Homo sapiens: one gene and its partners. Changing the gene in region 3 together with the main gene of any one other region gives a genetic interaction. Each region holds a gene or a part of one and is shown on either strand. Other genes may lie near its edges. The genes, in order: COPS4, METAP2 and CSTF3.

The links.
Region 1: changes in CSTF3 (region 3) and COPS4 together harm fitness more than expected from each alone (negative genetic interaction), as found in Homo sapiens cells (one large-scale study listed by BioGRID).
Region 2: changes in CSTF3 (region 3) and METAP2 together harm fitness more than expected from each alone (negative genetic interaction), as found in Homo sapiens cells (one large-scale study listed by BioGRID).

What each region holds. Positions count from the first base shown.
Region 1 is NC_000004.12:83,038,170-83,041,827, reverse strand, and holds part of COPS4 (COP9 signalosome complex subunit 4), read right to left. Parts: intron 1-3,658. UniProt on the Homo sapiens protein: Component of the COP9 signalosome complex (CSN), a complex involved in various cellular and developmental processes.
Region 2 is NC_000012.12:95,505,066-95,508,723, forward strand, and holds part of METAP2 (methionine aminopeptidase 2), read left to right. Parts: intron 1-3,658. UniProt on the Homo sapiens protein: Cotranslationally removes the N-terminal methionine from nascent proteins. The N-terminal methionine is often cleaved when the second residue in the primary sequence is small and uncharged (Met-Ala-, Cys, Gly, Pro, Ser, Thr, or Val).
Region 3 is NC_000011.10:33,084,016-33,086,372, reverse strand, and holds the end of CSTF3 (cleavage stimulation factor subunit 3), read left to right. Parts: intron 1-383; coding exon 384-478; intron 479-599; coding exon 600-660; intron 661-1,083; coding exon 1,084-1,286; 3' UTR 1,287-1,789; downstream 1,790-2,357. UniProt on the Homo sapiens protein: One of the multiple factors required for polyadenylation and 3'-end cleavage of mammalian pre-mRNAs.

The DNA of each region.
Region 1 (3,658 bases), on a different chromosome or scaffold from region 3:
ACTGAACAATATAAGCAATATGATAAATGAAGAGGTAATATATTAACTCAAAAGAGAGTAAGGCCAGGTGAAGTGGCTCACACCTGCAATCCCAGCACTTTGGGAGGCCAAGGAAGACGATCGCTTGAGGCCAGGAGTTCAAGACCAGCCTGGCCAACACGGAGAAACCCCATCTCTACTAAAAATACAAAAATTAGCCGAGTGTGATGGTGCACAACTGTAAGTCCCAGCTACACGGGAGGCTGAGGCAGGAAAATCACTTGAACCCAGGAGGTGGAGGCTGCAGTGAGCCACTGTACTCCAGCCTGTGACAGAGTGAGAGTAAAACAAAAATGGACTAGATTTGTCAAATAAGGCTTCGTAGATAATAATAGCTTTTTATATGAGTACTCAGTATACAAAGAGAAATGTGACTGATATGGAGAATGTGACAAGTGCCAAATATTTTCTTCCTTAAAAAAATTTGGCCGGGCGCAGTGGCTCACGCCTGTAATCTCAGCACTTTGGGAGGCTGAGGTGGGCGGATCACCTGAGGTCAGGAGTTCAAGACCAGCCTGCCCAACATGGTGAAACTCTGTCTCTACTAAAAACACAAAAATTAGCCGGGCGTGGTGGCGTGTGCCTGTAGTCCCAGCTACTCAGGAGGCTGAGCCAGAAGAATCGCTTGAACCCGGGAGGTGGAGATTGCAGTAAGCCAAGATCATGCCACTGCACTCCAGCCTGGGCGACAGAGTGAGATTCCATCTCAAAAAAAAAAAACAAAAAACAAAAAAAAAAAACTTATGGAGGAAAATAAGTTTTATTACTAAGGCATCATACATCTCTCCTATCCATTTATCATCAGTGAATTGAGCATCTTTAATGTATATGAACCAAATTCAGTATGTTGATTCTTAATTTCTTGGCACTTGAAAGGAATCTGGAGATAAATAAAGCATGAAAATGTACCACAGTCATCATTTAAGATCACAATGGGTGGTAAAGGTAGGTATTAACAGATCTTCCACTTACAGTAATGGTGAACTAAACGACTGGACCAACCCTCCCTCAAAAAAAAAAAAAAAAAAGCCAACATAAAAAGCTGAAAGAAATGAAAAAAAAAATGTAATTGCATAAAATCCTAACAAGAAAGGTAAAATGAGGAAAATAAGATAAACCATATATTCTGTCTAAAGGCATTTGCTGACTGTGGAAAGATGGCTGAGAGGTAGAGTGGCACTTCTTGTAGGGAGGAGAAGGTGGGCTCACTGCGAATCTGCTGGAAGCACTGAGAAGCAAGCTGCCATTTCTGGCAGACTAATAGAGCTGCACAAATGGGAATGGAAGTTCCATATTCTGCCAAAGGAGGAGACACACACTTTGGAAGTAAGGTTACAAATTCTATCCCAAGACCACCCAGGTAAACCAAAAAAATTCTGAAGCCTTGATTATACACTGTTAGCACCCTCAGGTAATGAAATTTCTCTCTAGAATCAACAAAAGCAACAGACAATCGCAACAACCAAAACGTCAAATACTGACTGGAGTTATCAGAAAGAGCATGATACAATTATGCTTACAATGTTCATGGGGATAAAGACAAGCTTTAAAGTTTCAGCAACAGACCAGGAGCCATAAAAAGTATCATTGGAAAAAAGAACCACCAGAAATTACAGAGCTAAAAAATACAACCCAACTTAGAAACTCAATGGAGTACTTAACGGCAGATTAAACACAGTTGAAGAAGTGATAAACTAGAAGGTAGGCCTGAAGAACTAATCCAGAATAAAGCATTGAAATGGAAAAGACAGAGTAAGAGGCCTAGAGGTTATAGTCAGTGGGCCTGACAGGGATTTCACCGGAGCCTAGAGGAGAAACAGAATGGGGCAGAGGCAACATTTAAAGAGATACAGGCCAAGCACAGTAGCCCACACCTGTAATCCCAACACTTTTGTAGGCCGAGGCAGGAGAATCCCTTGAGCCCAGGAGTTCGAGACCTGCCTGGGCAACATAGGGAGACCCCATCTGTACCAAAAAAAATGTTTTTAAATTAGCCAGGCATGGTGTCACGTGCCTATAGTCCCAGCTACTCAGGAGGCTAAGGCGAGAAGATTGCTTGAGCCAAGCATGTTAAGGCTGTAGTAAGCCATGATCTCTCTACTGCACTCAAGCCAGGGCAACAGAGCAAGACCCTGTCTCTAAAATAAAATAAAGAGATATAACTGAAGACATCTCAAGACTGATGAAATGATTTAATCCATTGATTCAGGAAACCCAGTGAAGCTTAACCAGGATAATGTGACAGAGTGCTTACAAAAAACGGCCACAATATAATTTCACTCCCAGTACCCATGTCCCTTTACAATACAACTTTGTAGCTCTTCATATCAAAAGGTAGAGTTTATTTCCCTACCCCTTGAATCTGGGGTTAACCAATAAAACGTGGTAGAAATGAAGTGCTAGTTCTGAGCCCAGACCTCGAGAGGCCTTGTATGTGTTTGTCTTTTGGAACCCTGCTGCTGTCACATGAACAGGCTCAGACTAACATACTGGCTAATGAGATATGTAGCCCAGTCAACTATATTGCCCCAGCCAACAAGCCAGCCAATCCACAGAAGCAGAGCTGCCTACCTGGCCTGGCTGGCAGCTAACTATAGACCCACATGGGAGCCCATGTGGAACCAAGACCACGTGGAGCAGAAAAGAACCATACAGCTGGGCCCAATCCAAACTACCAACCTACAGAATTATAAGCTAAATAAGTGACTGTTGTTTTAAGCCCTAAGTTTTGGGGTTTATTTCACAGCAAAGGGTAACTGACATAGAAAAGTAAAAACAAATCCACAGACATATCATAATGAAGCTACACAAAATTAAAGACAAAATCTTAAAAACAGGTAAGTGCTGGCCAGGCGCGGTGGCTCACGCCTGTAATCCCAGCACTTTGGGAGGCCAAGGCAGGTGGATCACAAGGTCAAAAGATCGAGACCATCCTGGCCAACATGGTGAAACCCTGTCTCTACTAAAAATACAAAAAAAAGTAGTCGGGTGTGGTGGCATGCACCTGTAGTCCCAGCTACTTGGGAGGCTGAGGCAGAAGAATCGGTTGAACCCGGGAGGCAGAGGTTGCAGTGAGCCGAGATCGCGCCACTGCACTCCAGCCTAGGCAACAAGAGTGAAACTCCATCTCAAAACAAAACAAAACAAACAAACAAACAAAAAAAACAGGTAAGTGCTAATATAATTTTTAGGAGAGAGAAATCATTGGATGGGGTTGATCTTTAAACATTCTAAGTATTTCAATTTAATAACAGTAGGAAGACAGGCATTCTAGGCAAAAATAATCACTATCTGAAGTGTAGTCAATTTTTTTTTGTGAAAATAAGGCCAAAAAGGTAGATGTGTTTGTTTAGAGTTAAGGGCTCATAGGCAAGCAGATATGGACTGTCTTCTAGCTTCACCACTAGCTGTGTGACCTCAGAGCAAGGTATTTCAACTCTGTACTTTGGTTTTCTCTTATTATAATGTAAATAATATCACTACTATCACCTACTCCTACTTGTTAAGGATTTTTAAATGTAAGTAATGTTGTGCTTCGCACAGTAAACTCTAGATGTTATTGACTTTCACTCTAGAGATGAAAACCACTAAAACTGTTGTGTTTGGGACAACAAAGAGA
Region 2 (3,658 bases), on a different chromosome or scaffold from region 3:
TTCCTTATAGACTATTTTCTATATTTCCTTTAACAGAATTCTGTCTCTCTTTGTAGACTGTGAGTGGAGACTCTCATGTTGTTTTCTTGCCTCTTAGTAAATTCACACCATTCAGCATTCTTTGCATTTCCTGTTGCCCATTATGTGTTTCTACCAAGAGCAGAAGTGATTCTTCCTCTGGAACCTGACCGTGCCTTCTATATAGACAGTTACCACCAACGTAACAGTCCTCTTTCATGTCTAAATACTGAAATTTATTACCAGACTTAAACTTTTTTTTGAGACAGTCTCTCGCTCTGTTGCTCAGGCTGGGATGCAATGATGCAATCTCGGCTCACTGCAACCTTTGCCTCCTGGGTTCAAGCGATTCTGCCTCAGCCTCCTCATTAGCTGGGATTACAGGTGCCCACCACCACGCCCGGCCAAATTTTTTTTTTTGAGATGGAGTCTTGCTCTGTCACCCAGGCTGGAGTGCAGTGGCACGATCTCGGCTCACTGCAACCTTTGCCTCCCAGGTTCGAGCCATTCAAGCCATTCTCCTACCTCAGCCTCCTGAGTAGCTGAGATTACAGACGTGTGCCACCATAGTTGGCTGCTTTTTGTATTTTTAGTAGAGGCGGGGTTTTGTCATGTTGGCCAGGCTGGTCTCGAACTCCAGACCTCAGGTGATCCGCCCACCTCGGCCTCCCGAAGTGCTGGGATTACAGGCATGAGCCACCGTGCCCAACTCTTTTTTTAGACAGAGTCTGCCAGACGTGGTGGCTCACGCCTGTAATCCCAAAACTTTGGGAGGCCAAAGTGGGTGGGTCACCTGAGGTCAGGAGTTTGAGACCAGCCTGGCCAACATGGTAAAACCCCGTCTCTACTAAATACAAAAAAAAAATAGCCAGGCGTGATGGCACACACCTGTAATCTCAGCTACTCGGGAGGCTGAGGCAGGAGAATCACTTGAAGCCAGGAGGCAGAGGTTGCAGTGAGTCAAGATTGCACCATTGCACTCCAGCCTGGGCGACAGAGTGAGACTTCGTCTGGGGAAAAAAATAAAAAAGAGTCTTCCTCTGTTGTCCAGGCTGGAGTGCAGTGGCACGGTTGCAGCCCAACCCCCTTGCTCAAGCACTCGGTGGAGTGCGCTCAGCTTCCCGAGTAGCTGGGACTACAGATGTACAGTATCATACCTGGCTAATTTTTGTATTTTTTAAAAAATATTTATTTTTATTTCTAATATATATGCTTTTTTTTTTTTTTTTTTGAGACGCAATCTCACTCTGTCGCCCAGGCTAGAGTGCAGTGGCGCAATCTTGGTTCACGGCAACCTCCGCTTCCCGGGTTCAAGCGATTCTTCTGCCTCAGCCTCTCAAGTAGCTGGGATTACAGGCATGCGCCACTACACCCAGCTAATTTATTTTTGTATTTTTAGTAGAGACGGGGTTTCACTATATTTGCCAGGATGGTCTCAATCTCTTGACCTCATGATCCGCCCGCCTCGGCTTCCCACAGTGCTGGGATTACAGGCATGAGTCACCGTGCCCAGCCTATATATGTTTTTTGATATCAAGATATTCTTCCATTTCATTGTTCTTCAAGGTTTCATTTCCCTTCCTCCTGCCTAGACCCTGTGTTGGCAGCTTTAATTCTTCTCTCATCTATATCTTTAACTTCTTTGTTATTTGATTTTCAGATATTCTCTTTAAGATCTCTAATCCTGTGAACACAAGTGCAAAGCAGAATACTTATTTATTTATTTATTTATTTATTTATTTATTGAGACAGAGTCTTACTCGTTCTGTCACCCAGGCTGGAGAGCAGTGGTGCAGTCTTGGATCACTATAAGCTCAGCCTCCCGAGTAGTTGGGATTACGGGTGTGTGTCATCATGCTGGCTAATTTTTGGACTTTTTTTTTTAGTGGAGATGGGGCTTCATCATGTTGGCCAGATCAGGCGATCTGCCCACCTTGGCCTCCTAAAGTGCTGGGATTACAGGCGTGAGCCACTGTACCCGGCCCAGAATACTCTTGATGTTACTCACACTTAGGTAGGAGGTGTGGGATAATGAAGAAAACACACTTTGGGGTTCAGGCAGTTTTTACTTGGAGTCTTAGATAAATCTGTAACCTGAATACCCAAGTTTCTTGACTGTAGTAGGGTTAATGGTATCTAGTTTATTTTGAGAAATGTAAATTGTGTGATAGTGCCTGGAATTTATTAAGTATTCAACAAATATTTGTCATTCTGTCCCCTTCTCACCCCAATTCTGGGATTAGTGCCACAAATACAGTGCTTATTCAGGCTCTTCCAAATCGCTCTTCGCATCCAGGAAATTACTTACCTGATGAGAAAAATAGCCAAACAAGCCTAACACTCTTTAACATTTTTTCCACGTTGCATAAAGAACATGGCAAAATACCAGGATTGGCAAATGCCGGGATTTGCCCATCTTCTCCCTATTCTTATGTTTTTATCTCTGTTCTTCAAGGAAGAAATATTCTGTCTTCTATACAGTATTTTCTTTAAAATTTTTTTAAATTGTTAGCTCAAACACTGCGTTAAGGATCTTCTTTTCAGTGTTAATCCTCCACCTCCTTTGAGATACCACCTTATTACGCCTTTTCTCTACATACTCAGCCTTTCCCCTAGTGGCTCCTCTCAGTGTGAAAGCACATGTGGAGGAGAATAAAAATCATAGCATTAGATAACCTTCCATGATTCTCATGATTTTTTTTTTTTTTTTGAGAGAGACTTTTGCTCTTGTTGCCCAGGCTGGAGTACAATGGTGCGCGATCTCGGCTCATCACAACCTCCGCCTCCCAGGTTCAAGCAGTTCTCCTGCCTCAGCCTCCCGAGTAGCTGGGATTACATGCGCCACCACGCCCAGCAATTTTTTTTTTTTTTTTTTTTTTAGTAGATGTGGTGTTTCTCCATGTTGGTCAGGCGGTCTTGAACTCCCAACCTTAGGTGATCTGCCTGCCTCGGCCTCCCAAAGTCTGGGATTACAGGCGTGAGGCACCGCACCCAGCCGATTCACATATTCTACTTTTGGCTTTTACTTACTGTTATGTGAAATTTTTACAATTTATTTTTACATTAAGACATGATTTAAATTTACTATGTTCCTTAGTAAGGGTAAACATACTTTTCTTTGTATCCTAGCCAAAGCCATAAGGAAAGCAAAAGATTTTTAAAGGCTAGAATTTAGAAGATCTCATTTCCAGTGTGCTTTTCTTTGGAAAATGTTTTGTCCAGTTCTTTAAATAGCTTAGAACCAGTTTTAGGAGTTGCTGCTTCTATTAACACTTTATGAGCTCCCCAGAAGCAAGATTCTTAACCCAAAGAAAGCTGAGATTAAGAGCATAAATGCCAAGTTAATTTGAGGAATTTATGGGACTAGAACATGGGCCTTCTGATTTCTAGGTTCACTGCTACAAATGAACAGAATCTATTTCCAAATTCGTGAGTCTTATGTCAACTTGGAGTACACACTGTAGCAGTCTGCTTGGGGGACTACCTCTAGAGTTAGTTATTTCTCTTTTTTGAGAATTTGCTGAAATTTTTGTAAATTCCAACACTAGCCAACATATACCAATGTCTTCTCTTTTTCCTTTCATTTTCTCCTAATTCTACAACTTGTTTGGTATGTGGTCTGCCTTTCAAGGTATGGTAG
Region 3 (2,357 bases):
TACTTAGGAATGGGTTAGTAGCCTCTCTAGATTCTTTTTGAACAAGGCCCTTCTGATTAAATACACTGTTGAATAATTGACTTGAAACAGGATTGCTAAACAAATGACTTGTGTAACTCAGAAACACTCTTTGACAAAAACTGACTTTAGTTCAGTCCCTGGTTGTCTTACACAAAGTCACTTGTCTACTTCTCTGCCTCCCAGTGGCCACGGCATTGAGACTGCTGTCTCACCCACTTTGGTTTGGTAAAGCCCTAGAAGTATTTTCAGTGTCCAGAACAAAGCAGCAGACATGGAAGATCTTTATGTGCAAGTCACTTGATTTTAGCTCTGTGTAGAAATTCTTCCATTCCACTTGATTCATACTTTTCTTTTTCTCACAGCTCCAGGTTTACACCCTGTACCTGGTGGAGTGTTCCCAGTCCCTCCTGCAGCTGTTGTTTTAATGAAACTTCTCCCTCCTCCTATCTGTTTCCAGGTTTGTTCACTTATTTTCATGGTAGATACTGGCTCTGTGGGTCATAGTAATTGTGTATAAAGTTACTACTACTTTAACTTGTCAGATTACTGGGATTAAAATTTATTCATGTCAAAAATAGGGTCCTTTTGTACAAGTGGATGAACTGATGGAAATTTTCCGAAGATGCAAGATACCAAATAGTAAGTAACAGAAGCTCCATTTCAGAGTGTCATTCCACGTTGTTGTCTCATAGGCAGTAGAGATTATTATTCTCTGCCACTGAAGTTTTCGAAACCAGCCAGCCAATTTGAAGTGCAGTGAAACCCAGGAGTTACCCAAACCCTCTTTGGCAGAGAAAGGCTTATTCACATTGAATTCCACTAAGTAAAATGTCATAAAACTTTATCTTTTCTATTCATGTGAACATGCACTATCAGGCTTGGCTTATGAAAATTATTAGTTTTAACAGCAGCTTTTGTCTTTTTCTTTAATTATTTAGTATCAGTAGTACTATCCCATGTTTTGCTAAAATAGTAGGCTATGAAATAAAGTATCCACAGTTGAACATACATACCCTTTCATAGTGGAATATGTTTTTACGTTTTGTTGTTTTGTTTTAATAGCTGTTGAGGAAGCTGTGAGGATCATTACTGGTGGGGCCCCAGAGCTAGCTGTAGAAGGCAACGGCCCCGTGGAAAGTAATGCAGTACTCACCAAGGCCGTCAAAAGGCCCAACGAGGATTCAGATGAAGATGAAGAAAAGGGAGCCGTTGTCCCCCCTGTTCATGACATTTACAGAGCACGGCAGCAGAAGCGGATTCGGTAGGGTTTTAAACGCCTCTGCAGAAAACTCCTGTCCAGGATTCCTTTTGCCTCAAGTGGTATGTTTAAAAGAGACAACGCTTTGTTACAAGGTTCTTGGAAACAAAGTTGTATTGTCATTGGTGCCTCTATCACATGGTTCTTGAGAAAAAACAAACCAACCTGTGTGAATTTTAGAATACGGAACAGACCTATGCTCTAAGCAAAATTAGGTTTTCAAAAATGTGAGAACAGTACAAAGTGGCAGAACCACATTTTGTTCCCTCTTCAAGGGTGTCTTGTATGTGCCGCTTGAAGATTTGTGAGTTTTTCAACAGTTTTATTTTAAAAACTGGATGGCTTATGATTGTAAAGCATTTTATCACATTTTCTGAAAACAATTGTTCTTGGTTTGCTTATGTAGAGTCCTGCCTTATTGTTTGTTTTTATTTATGGCAGAATGTATGAAATCCGTTTTGTAGTTTCAAATTTTAAAAGTCCTTTAAAAAATAAAAGGATTCAGAAACATCATGCTTCCTCTGCTTCTTTCAGATTTTATTTACAATAACTACTTATGTTATTTATCCAATACCATTTAAAAATAAATGTCAGGACAAGGAAAAGTCATCTTGTATTTACTGAATGTATTAATCACATACTCTTTCCTGGTCTGTCTTTTTTGGTGCTAACTAAAAACATTTTTAAGAGGCAAATTAAACATTTTAGAAATCCTCAAATATGAATGCATTTGCTCCCCAGTAAATCTGAGGCAGATTAAGATCCTGTTAATACTTTTGTCTCTCTTGAAAGCAACCTAAGTGTGGAAATTCCTTTAACCACCTGCTGTCTTGTTCTCACATAGAGTATCTCTTATCTAAAATACTTGGGACCAGAAGTGTTCAGGATTTTGGATTTGTTCAGATTTCAGAATATTTGCATCATACTTACCAGTTCACCATCCCTAATACAAGAGTACAAATTCCACAAAACTCCACTAAGCATTTTCTTTGTGCATCATGTTGGCACCGAAAAGGTTTTGGATTTTGGAACATGTTGGATTTCAGATTTTCAGATTAGGGATACTCAACTTGTATAT